Homo sapiens: one gene and its partner. The protein of the gene in region 1 interacts with the protein of each later gene in a biochemical or structural test. Each region holds a gene or a part of one and is shown on either strand. Other genes may lie near its edges.

The links.
Region 2: the proteins of FYB1 (region 1) and FYN form a complex in vitro, tested with the Homo sapiens proteins (2 studies listed by BioGRID and IntAct).

What each region holds. Positions count from the first base shown.
Region 1 is NC_000005.10:39,132,248-39,139,920, forward strand, and holds part of FYB1 (FYN-binding protein 1), read right to left. Parts: intron 7,006-7,673; coding exon 6,986-7,005; intron 6,445-6,985; coding exon 6,410-6,444; intron 5,871-6,409; coding exon of another isoform or gene 5,636-5,870; exon of another isoform or gene 5,474-5,635; coding exon 5,353-5,473; intron 2,768-5,352; coding exon 2,608-2,767; intron 2,103-2,607; coding exon 1,961-2,102; intron 1-1,960. UniProt on the Homo sapiens protein: Acts as an adapter protein of the FYN and LCP2 signaling cascades in T-cells. May play a role in linking T-cell signaling to remodeling of the actin cytoskeleton. Modulates the expression of IL2. Involved in platelet activation.
Region 2 is NC_000006.12:111,870,082-111,878,245, forward strand, and holds the start of FYN (tyrosine-protein kinase Fyn), read right to left. Parts: upstream 3,372-8,164; 5' UTR 2,887-3,371; intron 1-2,886. UniProt on the Homo sapiens protein: Non-receptor tyrosine-protein kinase that plays a role in many biological processes including regulation of cell growth and survival, cell adhesion, integrin-mediated signaling, cytoskeletal remodeling, cell motility, immune response and axon guidance.

The DNA.
Region 1 (7,673 bases):
AGAAGATGATGCCTTCTCTTCTTATTCTTGCCAGGGCAAGCTGCCGGCTACACTCAGCATCTTCCCTTTTTCTAAGAACAAAGCATGTTCTGTTATGAGATCTCTGCCCGCAGCAGCTGCAGTTTCAAAAATAAAACATGTATAGAAATGTCTTCTTCTTTAATTTTCTTAGTAAGGGTGCATAAGAGAGGGCTAGATGCTAGTAAATATTGTGGGGCTATACTTGTTTAAGATACTGAGCATTAAAACCCTACAACTCTTCCAACTTCCTGCTTTTACTAAATATAAGATTCTTTTTTTGTTATATGTTTACTAAAGTAGAGCAGGTTTTTAGAGTCGTGGTATGTATGGATTCAATAAAATGGAAAAAGGTGATAATGCTAGTTTTGGGAAATATTCACCCAATATGGTTAAACAAAGTTTCATTCTAAGAACCTCATTGTTTTTTCTGGATTTGTTATTTTTTTCTTGAGTATGCACATCCATGTAAATATGCGCAAATAATGTAACTGGAATTCTTTCACCAAAAATTAAGGGAGTGTGCTTTTTAAAAAACAAAAGGCACACACAAAGTATATACATTGGTAATATGCTTGACATAGTCATGAAAATTCTGTAAGTTACAGAATGTGACGATTTGGAACTTCATCTGGCCTCAAAACTGGCATTTACTGACTCACACTAGGTCGATGTTTGACTAAAGTCAGTTAATGATCTCCAAACTCTAGTGCATGCATTGTATGTTTTGGTATATGTTGCATAATTTATGTTTAGAACATGGTAAGAAGGCATAGCCGGCTGTAATTCATTTTAGAAAGACAAAACTGCTAGAAAGCAGCATAACAAGCTTAACTGATACCATGATATAAAAGATCATAAGAGGAAAATTTAATTCTTCATGTGCTTTATAAGTGTATTACTAATTTGGTGTTTTAGAAATGGCTGACAATGAAGATTGTTTCCTTTGAAATTTGAGTTATGAAGAATGCAGACACAGTTTTACCCAGGTGAAGAGCTAGCACAGATGATGTTTTTTGGGATCACAATGGAGGTTTCCTAGTTTTATAAAGTAGTCATCAAAAAACTAAAGTTCTGAACTGGACCAGAGATTTTCCTCCTTTCAACTTGAGGGGATTATGGCTTTAAACTGAAAACGGAGGTGTTGGAGGAAAGAAGGAATGAAAGGAGAAAGGGAATGGAAAAGTACAAAAGAGACAAAAGAATGACAAAAAATCAGAGCTGGAACAAAGAGAAGAAGAGGAGAGATGGAGAGAGGAAAGAAGCAGAAGACTAAGAAAGGAAAGAAGAGAAGGAGAGGTACAAGGGAGGGATGGCCAATCTCCTCTCATTGGTCCTCCAGAAAGGATGTTCTATTCTGTTCCTCTATACCAGGAAGGTGTTCCCATAATTCTTGAAGTGAAGGTCATTTTAATCTAGTGGAATGGGCCGTGGAAAGTTGGACCCTTAATTGATACCTAGGGATCATAAAAAAACGGAGTTTTTACTTTTAAGGAGCAAACTGGGGTTGCCATAAAAATCATTTTTTGTCGTATTTTCAAAAAATAACAACAAATATATTTAGAATCAGAGATTTATGAGAAAAAATGGGCTAAATTTTATATTTTATGCTTCATATTTTACCAAATCATATTTCATTAGGCATATCCCTAAGATCAAGTCATAATGAACATTATAAAAGTGTTTTAGAATGAAAACACATTTTACAAGATCTGGCAAATGGCCCACTATATTTCAAGTAGTATTTGATGCATATAATCAAAAGAAAGACTATGGAGTTTCAAACGACCTTTCACCCATGTTGGGGTTATTGTAAGTGGTCATTTAGTTTAGTGATAGAGAGCAGTAGGAGTTATGGAGGGTAAAATTCTAGGATCTTAATATACAAAATTTCTGACAAGGAGACAGTTTGATCTGTTCTACAATACGTACTTGCACATACCTGCTAATATCATCCTGCTCTGCAACATCATCATATACTTCTTGGTCATCTTCAATAGGTCTTGAAGGGGCACCAAGAGAGTCTTTTTTCAGTTTCAAAGAATCATAGTCAATCTCTACAGCAGTTGTTTTAATATAGCCATCTACCAAAAAGGGAAATATTTATGTTCAGGCAACTGTAGTTTAAATATTTTAAAGTTGTGAATAAAATATCAATTGCACATTTGCTCTTTAAACTTTCCCCTGATTTATTTTCTTGTAGTTCTGATTTGTAGACCTCCCAAGTAGACCCAAATTTTACTGTACTCTGTCAAAGTCTAATCCTGTTGTAGTTTAATGTAAGCCTACCTTCTATTTTAAATATTCTAAAGTGATTCACATGAAGCATTTTTTCTTTTTAACATCAATGAAAAACCTAATGCTGTTCGTTCCTCCTGGAATAATATAAAACTGTACGTTGTTTCCCACAATATAGATAACAGATGAGGTGAAGACGGAACTATACCTGCCATTTAACATTTTCCTCCCTTTGTCCACTCTGTAAAGTACTCCTAACTCGATGCCTATGACGAGTTCTGGAGGAATATGTACATTGAATATTGCCTCGCAAAGAAAATACTTCGAAGCCATAGAGAAATTTGCACTCACATGAACCCCTTGCTGTTCTGCCCAACCATTTTCCTTCTGGGTTGTCTGTGATGCGGATGATTTCAATTTGCTCTCCTTGCTTGAAGCTCAGTTCATTCTTTCCTCCTTTGACATCACAACAAGCTTTTGCAAGATGGATGACTTGAATAGGGCCTGTTAGCTGCAAAGAGAAAAAAATAGTCACAAAAGATTTCCTTATAATTTAGAAAATCTTTAAGGAATGCAATTTTGAAAGATATAAGTCTACAACTTGCTAAGCTACCTATAACCAACATTTACAGGGTTTAACCAGAAATTGAGGGTGAATGTTTTTCTTATAGGAGGGGTTAGGGAAAAATCACAGGGGCCAAGCAGGACCAGCTAAGACAGGTGAACATGTGCATGGGGTCAGGAGAGTGAGGCAGGGATCTGTTGACTAGGAATTCTGCAAGAGGCCTGCAAAGGCAGCCCCCAATAACTGAACAGCGTTTATGTACAACAATCCATGCTGTGTGCTATGTATCTTTATGGAATATGCCAGGATTCTGTTCAGAAGATGGAGTTTTTTCCCCTTTGCATTGTTTGTAAAATTGGAGCAGACATTACCTGCTATAAACAAGATAACATTTCAGAAATAAGCTTGTAAATCAAATAATAGCAAGCAAATGTTACACGAGGTTTTTCAAATTAATATTCTGAACAGTATGGTGGCTTATTGATAGAAGGATAATGATGTTGGTTAGACTATGAATCCTAAACTCTTAATTTTCTAATCCTAAATTGGTGTCTTTTCAACAGAATTTCTTGAATCTTTTGATATGCAAATATGCATGACGACTTTTGAAGAAGCTCTACCTTTAATTTATTGAATTTATGATGGCATTAATTATAAACATTTATCATTATCATGTACCACTAAGAAATAAAGAAAATAATGTAAGTTAAGTTATGATATGCCATGATGCTGATGAGGCTCAGTTCTCATATTTATTTAATTTTTTTTACCTATTATCTATTATCATCTTGTGAAAGGAATATGGCTGGTGAAGTCCTAGTTTTGACAGACTTTTGAGTTCATATTTAATGGTATGATTTCCATATCCTATCTTTTCTTACTAAAAATATTATTTGAATGAATGAGATAATGTAAAGCTGAATTCTCCAGAAGAAACATGGAAAAACCCCACATAATTCCTTTAAATCTACAATTTCTTCATGGAAAGTATACTATATAGATTTTTGTTATTTTTTTTTGAGATGGAGTCTCGCTCTGTTGCCCAGGCTAGAGTGCCGAGGCCCGATCTCAGCTCACTGCAAGCTCTGCCTCCCAGGTTCATGCCATTCTCCTGCCTCAGCCTCCCAAGTAGCTGGGACTACAGGTGCCCGCCACCACGCCTGGCCAGTTTTTTGTATTTTTAGTAGATACTGAGTTTCACTGTGTTAGCCAGTATGGTCTCAATCTCCTGAACTCATGATCCACCCACCTCGGCCTCCCAAAGTGCTGGGATTACAGGCCTGAGCCACCACGCCTGGCCTACGATATAGATTTTCATAAATTAATTGAAATTAATTTTTCACTTGAAAAATATAAAGATTGGTAGTCATGCATTCTGTATAAGTAAAATGTTCTAATATTAATACGGTAATCATAATTTTACTTACATATAGCAAGCTTTTTCAAAATCAAATGAGAATCTTATGATACAGTGTATGCTCTGCATTATTTTAGTTCCATAACAAACTTTCTGGAGTAGTATCATTTATCCTTACTTAAAAGATTAAGAATCAGCGGCTCAGAGAAGTTAAGTGAGAAGCCCAAGATCACATAACTTGTATGTGCAACTGGAATTTGAATCAGTTTGTCTGGCTGACTTGATGCTATACATTTTCCTTGCACCATGCATTGAACCTTTGCTTTAATGCAATAAATATACCGGGAAGTTATATATAAATCATTTTTAAAGAAATTTGAACCACATATTAAATGCTCCAGAGGAATAAAAATACTTAAAGAAACCATACAGTGAATTCTTTTTGAAAGAATAATTTTGTAATTCAGATAATCACCCTAAATATGTCTGACATGCCAGACCCATGCCAGATGAGCCATGTCATCAAAGATGGTGTAGCCAGGAGAAAATAGCCCCTGAGTGTAGCGTTTACTGGTGGTAGTAATGGTAGAAAACACACAATTACCAGAGATCAGAGAATACAGAGGTCAGAATCCAGACAGACAAAGAGGGATGAGAAACAGCAGTTATCAGAAGTCAGCATGTACACAGACTTAAAGGCAACAATATAACTCATGTATAGATACTAGCAATTAGAGTAGATCATGGAAATCTTATTCTGAGACAGGTCTGGTTCACCCTGGAGGCACTTGTGTCCAATGCCCCCCTATAATACATACCACAGGGATATTTATGTGTGTGATGCTAATTCATAGTATAAGTAGGCTAATATGAAATGCATTATGGGGAGAGACAAGATGGGTTTGAAAAGGTAAATATTCATTCACTCAATCAACATAAAATTTCCTGGGTGTCCACTAATTATGAACCAATATATTTATTTAAATTTTATTATATTAGTTCAGGGATAAAATGGTGTATTGGACAAAAAAGTACTGTTATGAAGATAATTACTCTTTAGAGAATAATGAATAAGTAATTCTTCAACTATGTAAGTTTTCAAGAATGGTACCCCTTTTGTGTGAAAGGTATAAAAAGATGTTATTCTTTCACTCATTAGCAAGCAAGCCCTTACTTTAAATTTCTTCTTTATTTCTTGTTCTTTCTTTTCTTTCTCTTTCTGTTCCTTTTTCTCCAGCTCTAACCTCTTCTTTTCTTCCTTTTCCCTTTTCTTCTCTCTTTCTTTGGATGCTTCTCTGTGAGTAAAAATTGTTAGGTTGTTTTCACATCTGCAGGTGTTGATGCGTCGGAACTCCCTACCTAGAAGTTTCTACTCACAACAGAAAAGGTGGTATCTGAAGTACAGTTGAAGGTAAAAAGCGAAAGGTTGTCAAAATCCGGAATGTGTGAGATTATTTTTAAAACCAGTAGGAGGCACACTGCTGAGGATACCTTCCAAAGGCTCTGCTTTCCCTGACAACTTGTGCCAGCAAGTGGAAGCCACCGTTTATAGAGGCCCCATTCTTGCTGTATGTTCGCATAAATAGAATCCATCTCTTTTTCTCTCTTTCATATGCACACGTGCCTGTGCATTCACAGGTACACATATAAACCTTGGCTCTGAAACTTGAGTCAGAATTGGTTGAATAAACACTGGGTAGAGAAAATTAAGGTATCTGAGATCAACATATGATAAAGTAAGATAATATATTCATTTCTACTTTCACCCACTTTCCAAGAAATTTCGTTTCCAAGAAACTTCTTTGTTTAACATCTTTCCACTTTAGCAGCTGACACTCTGACCTCTGGGCGTCATGATAAATTATTTTTCATAGCACCCCGTGGGTGGAGCTCTGTTCAGGTGAAGAAGGCGTAACATAAATTAACTCATCTGCCCAAGGATACACTAAGAGTAAGAAATCAGATTTCTGTCTCTGATTCCCTGACTGTGGTTTATCTCAGAGGCATGTCTCTGGCCTCTCACACAATAGCTTTTTAACAGAGTCCTTTGTAGAATTCTTAGAGAACTAAATAATTTTGGGTCCTTTAAATTGAAATAAAAGTTATTATACGCCAGTCATTTGAACAAATCAAGCTTCCCTCCTAGTGTTGTTATATACCCACTCTCCCTCATACAAAACATTATATTCATCTTTGAAGAAAACTGTCATGGTAAAAAATGTAATTCATACATGTCTTCATATGTTTCTCCTTCACTGTCTTGTTCCTGTAAAGAAAAACATTGATAATGATTAATTTTTATTATTTAAAAAGTTGACACACATATTACATTGCTTAGACTTAAAATGAAGGCAACAATGTAAATTTTTATAATTTGAACCACATATTAAATGGTCCAGAGGAATAACTACTTAAAGGAGCCATACTGTGAATTATTTTTGAAAGAATAATTCAAATACTCAGTAAAACAACTATTGTATGTAAGTTTGGCTTATTTAAAATATTTTTTTTCTCCTTAGAAATAGACTGGGAAAGCAAAAACAAAATTTCCTTTTCTATCTTGCTATATAAATCAGACGTGTAGTCAGACTTAAGTTTGTTCAGCACTACAGCATTATAATGAGTCAGTGTGATGACTAGTGTGTAACATCTTAAGCATTTTAGATGAAATAAGATTAGAAATGGAAAAATATCATTGCTCATAAGGATTTTCATTTGTTTGTTTTGTACCAATACGGAGTGAATCATAATACTTGTGAAATATTCTGATTATGTCAATATAATATGAGAAGAGAAAAAAATCTGACCTCATCTAGATTTCCAGCACCTAAAAGATTAAAAAAATAAAATTTAATACATTTGTAATAAGGAAGCACTTTAATGTAAGATTATTGGATATGATATAATAATATTCAAAATAGTTCATAATCTAACAGAACTTATGCTTTATCAAAGATACAGAAATAGAAAATCAAATACGTACTTTAGATCTTTACTATGGCTTTTATTTGTGCTGGTGACTTAATTATAAAATCATTTCATTGGCTTTCATAAAATAATGCAAAGGGCGAAAAATAATTAATACACTGTTTATTACCTTTATGAAAAGGGATGTCCATTTGGTTTTCTGGGCTTGCATGGAAAAAGGTATTAAAAAATCACTGTTTCACACCTTTTTACTTATTAGTTCCCAAGGATTTGTTTTTATGTATCAAACAAATCAAGTTAATTGGATTAAAAAAATTTAATAAGAGTTCAGTGTAATATCAAAACTAATTACTGAATATTGAAACAGAATCCAATATTAAGAGCAATAATATAATAATATTAATAATAAAAACAGTGTGGTGTTGGTATAAGAACAGGCAAATAGACCAATGGAATAGAGCAGAAAATTCAGTGACATACACAAATGTACATAAACACACCCATAATATACACATACACACACATAGAGCTGATATAATATAAAGGTAGCACTATAAATTAATGAGA
Region 2 (8,164 bases), on another chromosome or scaffold:
TCTGTATCTTTTTTCTGAGCACATGGCTAAACTACATTTCCCAGGCTCCCTTGCAATTAAATGTGGCCATATAACTAGCCCTCAAGTAAAGAATGTGAGAGGAAGTGATGGTGGCACTTCCAGGCTAAGGTATTTTAAAAGTGGGTGTGCCCCGTCTACTCTCTGTTGCCCCTTCTGTAAACTGAAACAGGTTACGATGATAAGCTATGGGATGGTGGAGCTACAAGATAGGGGTGTGGGACCCAGAGTCACTGCATGGAGGAAAGCCACCTACCGACCAGAAACATGAATTTTTGACTATTAAATGAGCAAGAATAAACGTCTATTGCTTTTGAGCCATTATATATTTGCAGGCCTATTTGTTACACCTGCTAACATTAGCCTAATTGATACAGGTGTTGAGCACATACCAAAGACCTAACTCACATTTGTTTAATGTTAAATGAAACAGAATACCCGCTAAGATAAAACTTGGTAGGAAACAAGATAAGTAAGATAAGGTTCCTTTTATCAATGTGCTGACCAATTAATGGTGGAAATAGACTCATGCGAAACATAATGCCTGCTGCCAAAGTTTGAAACCAAAACATGATGATTTGTTTGGAAAGGAGAAGATGGAAACGGCTTCACAGAGGAGATGACATTTGAGCTGGGCCCCAAAGGTTAAAAAGGACTTCGAGCAAGTCAGATGGGGTTGGAGATTCCAGACCCAGGAGAAAGCAGAGTGTGCATTTGCTCACATTCAACCTTATCATTAAGTCTCTTAAACTTGGTCAACAGAGTGTGAGTTTATGTGCTCTGGCTTTCCTTCCTGGGTCTGGCATCAAACAAACGACCCTTTGTTTTTACAGTACACTCATTAACCCTATTGCTTTTTTTATCGTAAAAAGTTCCACGATGAATGTTCTTAAAAAGTGTGTAAGTAAATATTTAATGAATCATAACTCTTTTCTAATAAAATTACTGAAGACTAAACCTACAGTTCTGTTACTTATAAAAATAGTCGAGGAGCCATACTTTTAGGAAAGAACAGGTTCAACTTAAGTTTTGACAATATCGATTAAGCATGTAATAGTCACTGGCTTACAAAACGGAACATTAAGCCCCCAGATTTACATTAACATTTCTTCCTTAAAGGGAACATCAAATGGTTTAGACTTCAGTCAAGATTCTCTACAGCCCCAGTTCATAGCCAAGTGGCCTCAAAGCCTCAGATAGTTAAACCACTTCCTCCAAAAGTCTGTGAGTCCCTTCATCTGAATACAGGGTACCCATGGAGCAGGGACTGGGGAAGAAGACAGTACATAGGGTGGAAAGTATTGCAGTTGCTTGGGTGGTGAGAAAGGAAGTAGGCGTCCCAAGACTACCTTGAAGCAGGCAAGAGGCAGTCTGCAGTGGTCTTCCAAATGCTAACTCTAGACCGTTTTATCCACGTCCCCAGGTATTTACTTCAATAAAAGGGTAAAACAACATCACTGGGCAGACAGGATTTCATTTCAAAAGACTTCAGTACAGTGCCCTCTTAGACTTGAGAGAAGAAGCCATTCAGGCTGCCTCCCTCTTATCAAATAACAATTTAATTCTGATTCAGAAACAAAATTCTTGTGACCCCCACACCAATCTACTCTACCCCAGCTCTTAGTACTTGTTCCCAAAAGGACAGGGGAAAGAACGAGGGGATGGGGAGGCTACCTTAAAAGTAAAGCAACTCTTAAGACTGCTGGGATAACTGTTCCCTTAAATCTAAGAAACACTGCAGCTGCCAGTCAACACTACCGGTCTCTGAACACAGCAAAATGCCGACACCTGCCACCCGGCATCCGGGGGTTCTTTTATTTTTTGGTAAATGTGGCAGGAAAGACTCAGAGAGATCAACTGCTTCATGGGAAAGAAAGGGAAGCCCCAGGGAAGAGAGACAAGAAGCATCGTGCCTATCCTAGGGTACTTTGTGTGTCTCCTCTCTATGCACTGAAAGGGCTCTTTGTGTCACACTCACACTCACACACCCGGCGAGTCTGTGTGATTTATTGGGGGAAGGAGGGGCAAGAAGGGTGATTTTATTATCCCTCTTCCCAGTGAGTCCCAGCACATCTCTGCTGGGCCCAAGCTCGGTGGCCTCCTTCTGGCCCAGTCCCCTCCGCCTGTGGCCGCAGAGATAACAGAGGGGAGGAGCCCAAACAAAAACAGCCATGGATCTAGGGAAGTAGAGAGGAAATCCAGCGAGGGAGCCGGAAAGGAAGGAGAAAAGAGCTGGAGGGAGCAGAGGGGTGGGGGACAGAGGAAGAGGAGGGAAGGCTCCAGCACAGGGGAAAGGGGAAGGGTGGGTGGGTGGTGGCACAGGAAGAGTGAAGGGGAGGATGGGGGAAGTGCAAGGGAGGTGCCAGAAATAGGCAGGAGGATGGGTTGGAGAAGGCGACCGCCGCCGAGGGAGGAGGCCGAGAGGTGGAGGAGTGGGGCAGGGGTTGGGTGGGGAGGGAAGCAGCACGGGGCATCAATTATTAAGTGATTACATCATCCCTGACATTAAAACAACACACACAGCCCCAGTCCCCGCGGGGGGCCCCAAAAGGAGGGCGGGGGCGGAGTCTGGGCCAGCCTCGCCCCCAAGCCAATTCCCATTTTCACCCGGCGCCCGCTTGCGGGCGAGGAAATGGGGTCCCCATCCCCGCGCTGCCTCGGGGCCGCACCCCGCAGGGGTGTCCTCCGGTGCAACCGCGGGAAGACCCCAAGCACCGACTCCCCGGCAGCCCCGCGGAGCGCCCTGGCGGCCAAGGGACCGCAGCACCGGGCCCTGCGGCGGGGGCGGCGTGCGCGGGGGCGCCGGCGGCCGGGCTTCTCCGCAGCATCCCCGAGGCCTCCCGCGACGCATCCCCGCCGCCTGCTTACCTGCGCGGCGCTGAGGCTCCGGAGCCCACTCACATGGTCCTCTCCCCGCCCTCCTCCGGCGCGGCCGAGGCGGCTCCGGGGGGTCCCCGGCGGGCCCGGGAGCCGGTGGGCCTTCCGAGAGCACCGAGGGGGCGGCGCCGGGGTGTCCCCGGCCCGGCGGCCGAATCCCTCCCTGGCGCGGGCGGCGGCCGCCGGGCGGTGCGGCGCGGGCGGCGGCTTTGTGTGCGCCCGGGCGGTCCTCGGTGCGCTGGGAGAAGCGCGGCGCGCCCGGGCGGGAGAGGACGCGCCGCTCGCACAACAACCTCGCCTCTACTCTCGCCGCCGGGCGGCGGGCGGGTCTCGAAGGCCTTCGGCTCGCGGCGACCCCTCCTCCTCGCCCGCGGCAGCCCCCTCCTCGCCGGCTCCGCTCCTGACAGATGGCGCAACTGCAACGACGCGCCGCCGCCACCAGCGCGGCTGCTCGCTGCTACTCTTGCTGATGCTCTGCCCCTCCAGCTCCGGAGGGGAGCGAGGAGGGGGCGGGGCGCGCCTCGAGAGTGACAGGCCCGGCTGCCCTATCAAAGAGCCCCTTGGGAGCTGCGAGCCGCAACCATTGGCGCCTGGGGCGTGGGCGGGACGGCAGTAGGTGGGGCCGCCGAGTGGGTTGAGCGTTACTGTGGCAGCGGGCATCCCAGGGTGCGTGCGGTGCAGGGTGTGCAAGAAAATGCGAGGTTGGAGGAGGAGGTCTGTGTGTTTTTAAGGATTGTGTGGAGTTGTGAGGTGGCGGAGTAGGGCGGGAGAAAGAGCGGAGAGTGTGAACTGCAGTTTCCGCTTTGCGGAAGGTTGCAGCTGCTGCTGCAGATTGGCACCTGCCATTCCCCCAAAACCATGGGAAACTGCCTCGAGACAGGGCTATCTTGCCTTTCTGGTGTCTTTTCATTTGAGGGTGAGAGGATGAAATGGAAAATTGGGCGGTGATAGCAGCGTTTTCTTTGATCAAACTGAAAAGAGTACGGAGCAAAGTAGAATCCTGTCCTGAAACGTGGAAACGCACAACAAATAACAATGAGGAGGAGAAGGAGATTAGGATCATTTTATCAGTCCCCTATTTCTGCGGACACTCATTTATATTTTTTTTCTAGCAAAAGTCTGGAGGAAGTATTACTGAAATAGGGGGAGGGGCCAAGCGGCGACTAAGGAACCTGAAATGACAGAGATTTGTTCGTACATTCCCCGCCCCACCCCCAAAAAACCTCGTTTAATTGTAGTCATTGGTTGTCTTTGGTTTCTCATAACATTCAAACTTCTCATGTTTTTTTCCCCTTCACTGAATCTGAGCTTTTGCTCATATTTCCCTTGATGAAATAATTGCCGGTTTAGTATACAGTTGGGAGTGCATCGGTCTTTATTTCCTATCCAGCTTTTCTATGGCAGGATGTAACTTCATAAAAAGAAACACTTTGGCTTCCTGATTTTCTTTATAGGTAATTCCTGTTTACTGAAAGTTCTGCTTTAAGGCATACTCAGAATCGCTCTCCTTAATGATTTTGGCAAGAACCCTACCTTCCCCCTCAGCAAATCTAATGTTCTAAGAAATTATAAGTGAATCAGCTTCTGCTTCTGTGCTCAAAATCTATAATATTGCCTTTCCGGCCCACTACTTGTTTTTACTGTAGTTTAAAAAAATCTGTCCCTTTTGCTGACTTTTTTCTTTTTGTACACACTACTTTTTAAGAAAAGTTGCTAACATTTATTAAATGATCTGCATCCTATGGAGGAGGAAACTGAGGAAAAGAAAAGTTAAGTAACTAACTCAAGGTGACAGTATACAGAGGTTACTGGATTTTTTTCCTTTTCCTTAAACAAAATGACAAATTAAACCATGTTTAAATTGTGTCTGGAAATTCCATAATCCCAAGAAATGGAACCATAGCTAGGACTAGGATATTTCCATACAAGAGAAAGCCAGCTTCATTTAGCCAAGAATTGCTTATCTCAAGAGCAGAGGCTCTTCGTCCTCAGGGCTAGTCCGCAATGGCTGCTCTGGGTTTATTTGGATTGGGATGCAGAGGCAGTTGGGTAGAGCAATGGTTCTCAAACTTTGACATGTATCAGAAATAACTGAAGGGGCTTGCTTAAACATGAATTGCTGTGTTTAACCACCTGAGGTTCTGATTTAGGGGGTTTGGGATGGTGCCCAAGAATTTGCACATTTAGCAAGTTCCCAGGTGATGTTGATACAGCCAATCTGGAGACAGCACCTTGAGGACCATAGTTCTAGAATTGGGCTGTCCGAGGAGGTAGCCACTAGCCACATGACTGTTAAGTACTTGAAATGTACTTCAGTATTGGAAATTTGGCTACTGCAAATTAGGATGTGCTGTAAATGTAAAAGATGTATTAGATATTTCAGATCAAGCATGAAAAATGGAATGTAAAGTATCCCATTTTAATATTGATTACATGTTAAAATGATAGTCTAAATGTACTGTGCTAAATAAAACATTATTAGAGTTAATTAAATTGTTTCTTTTATTTTTTAAATGCGTCTACTAGAAAATTTTAAATAACCTATGTGGCTCAAGTTATATCTCTATCGGGCAGCACTGGTCTGGAGTTGTTTCTGATTCCAGCTCCACAGTTCACTGTTGGGAGCGCTTTGATGAAGCAAGTCGCTTATCCTTTTTGAACCTTAGTGTCCTCATACGTAAAATGGGAAAAATAGTAAAACTGTTCTCAAACTATTCCGGACAGACTAAGTGTCATATGCTCTCAAGAAAAAAACACTCTTAGGCTATATATCTCCTTGAAATCTCATGTTTAGTTCAATCTATCTTACGCTAAATCTGGAAATCTGGAGTAGGTGGGATAAGTCCTCTCTCTCTCTCTCTCTCTCTCTCTCCCTCTCTCCTCCTCTCTCTCTGTTTCTTCACGAGAAGTCACTTCTTAGTGTCTGCAACTGTAATAGCTTCTTGATCTAATTAGTGGACAAAGAGACAATGTGATTAAAATGACAGATTAACCTGCTCCCATCAAGACTTCATCCTGTTTTTTGTAATTCTTTGCTTACCTACTTTTTTATCTGTTGCCCGTCTTAAATGTAGCTTTAAATGGATTTGGACTCCTCAGGAGGATTTGCTAATGGTCTGAACAAGTGAATAGAGCACTGCAAAAGATTTGTATACTATTCCCGTTTTGATCTTTTCTGCCAATCTCTACCAAGAACTTGATTAAAGATCTGAGACGCTGTCCCTGGCCTACCCAAGGTAAGTAATATTGTCTTCCACAACCACCAGTTTTGTTTTCTTATGAGTAGCTTCTATTATACAAATTAGAATGTAGTCATTGTTCTAGAACTTCTCTTTGATTTTATTGATATTGTTTATATATTTTGTATTTTTCTACTTGTTTTACCTTAAAGTTTCCTCTTTCTATTCTGGCTTTCTTGAACTTGTCTCATCTGAATCTTATATCTTGCTTTTAAAGTAACTTTTTTTTCTTATTTTTATTAGCTAAAACATTTTCTTGTCTTATTATTTTATTTTAGTTTTAATCTTCTCTTAAATGTCAACTCAACAACAACACATATGGCAAGGGTAAAAACCCTCAATGTAGAGTTTTTACAAATCAACAAGAAAATAAAGATGAACGTTCGAACTGAAAAATATGTGCAACAGAAACAAAACCCAAAATGGCCAGTAAATGTGATAGGAGGTTCAACAGGAAAATGGATATCCATACCCTACTAGTGGAATTTTTAATTGGTACAACATTGCTGGAAGGCAGTTTAATAGCATTTGTGAAAAGCCTTTTAAAAAAATGTATACATTTGACTTAGCAATTTTACTTCTGGGAAAGAATGGAACAAATTTGCAAATACACAAACACAAGCGCACATATCATGGGAATAATTGGAACATTGTTTATAATAGTGAAACACTGAGAAAAGTTCATTGATAAGGGATTTGGTGTGTAAATTATGTTATATCTATAATAGAATACTATATAGCCATAAAATTATAACATTGCCATTTATTTATTTATTTGTGTGGAAAGATGTTCACAACAAATTAAAATTAAGAAGAGCTAATAAATTAGTATTGTGTTTGTATGTGTACATATGTATGTTTATATATATGTATTAATACACATATATTTCCATTATTTTTAAACTTATTTATATGTGTAAATTTTCATAGAAAGCAATACATACACAAAAATTTTAATGATCATTTCCTCCAAGTAATCATATTTTAGGTCATTGTTATTTTATTTTTTATCTTTTTCTTAATTTCCTCAACTTTTTACATTGGGCATTTATTATGTTATTAGAAAAAACAATAAAAACTTATTTTAAACTTGTACCTTTTTTTGCTACTTTAATTCTCGTTTTTCTTCCTCTGCCTCCTGTCTGCTGTTTTTCCTCCCTTTTGAAGGCATATTGCCCCAGGGTAGTGTTCAGGAATCAAGACCAGGACCAGAGGGAGGCCTTCTGCTTCCATCCACCCACAGACACCCTTCTTGTTTCTGGTGGGTCTTCTGGGACTTGCAGGAATGATTCTTATAAAACTTCACTTTGAGGCTAGGCATGATAGCTCGTGCCTGTAATCCCCGTGCTTTGGGAGGCTGAGGCCAGAGGACTGCTTGAGCCCAGGAGTTTGAGACCAACCTGGACAGCACAGCAAGACCCCATCTCTACAAAAAAAATAAATGCCAGGTGTGGTGGTGTACACCTGCCGTCTCATCTACTTGGGAGGCTGAGATGGGAAGATTGCTTGAGCCTGGGAGGTCAAAGCTGCAGTGAGCTCTAATTGCACTGCTGTAACAGAGTGAGACCCTGTCTCAAAACAAAACAAAATGAAAAAAACAAGCAAAAAAACCCCTTCACTCTTAGAGTGGGACACCACTGCTAAAGTGGCCCCAGGGCTAACCTGTCTGTACTTGGCATACCTGGTTCACTGTTTACCTCTTTCTTCTGATGCCTCATATCAAGTCCATACATAAAGAGTTACATATTTTTATATACACAATCTTTAGAACACAGCCAATGGATTTAGGGCATTTTGGGTCCACAGCTTGCCATGAGCCAGCAGGAGATGGTCCTGGAAAAATCTCATGTGGGAAGGACATTCCATACAACACCCCAGCCTGAACTCAGAAAGGAGCGTAGGTGATGTTAAACCTGCCTCTGGAAGGAAGATACCTGTGGCTCTTCTGAAGTTGAGATTCTGGCCCTACTTTTCTACCATTGTCTCTCTTGTTAAATTGTGTCCATACTGGACAGCTGGTCCTCCTGACA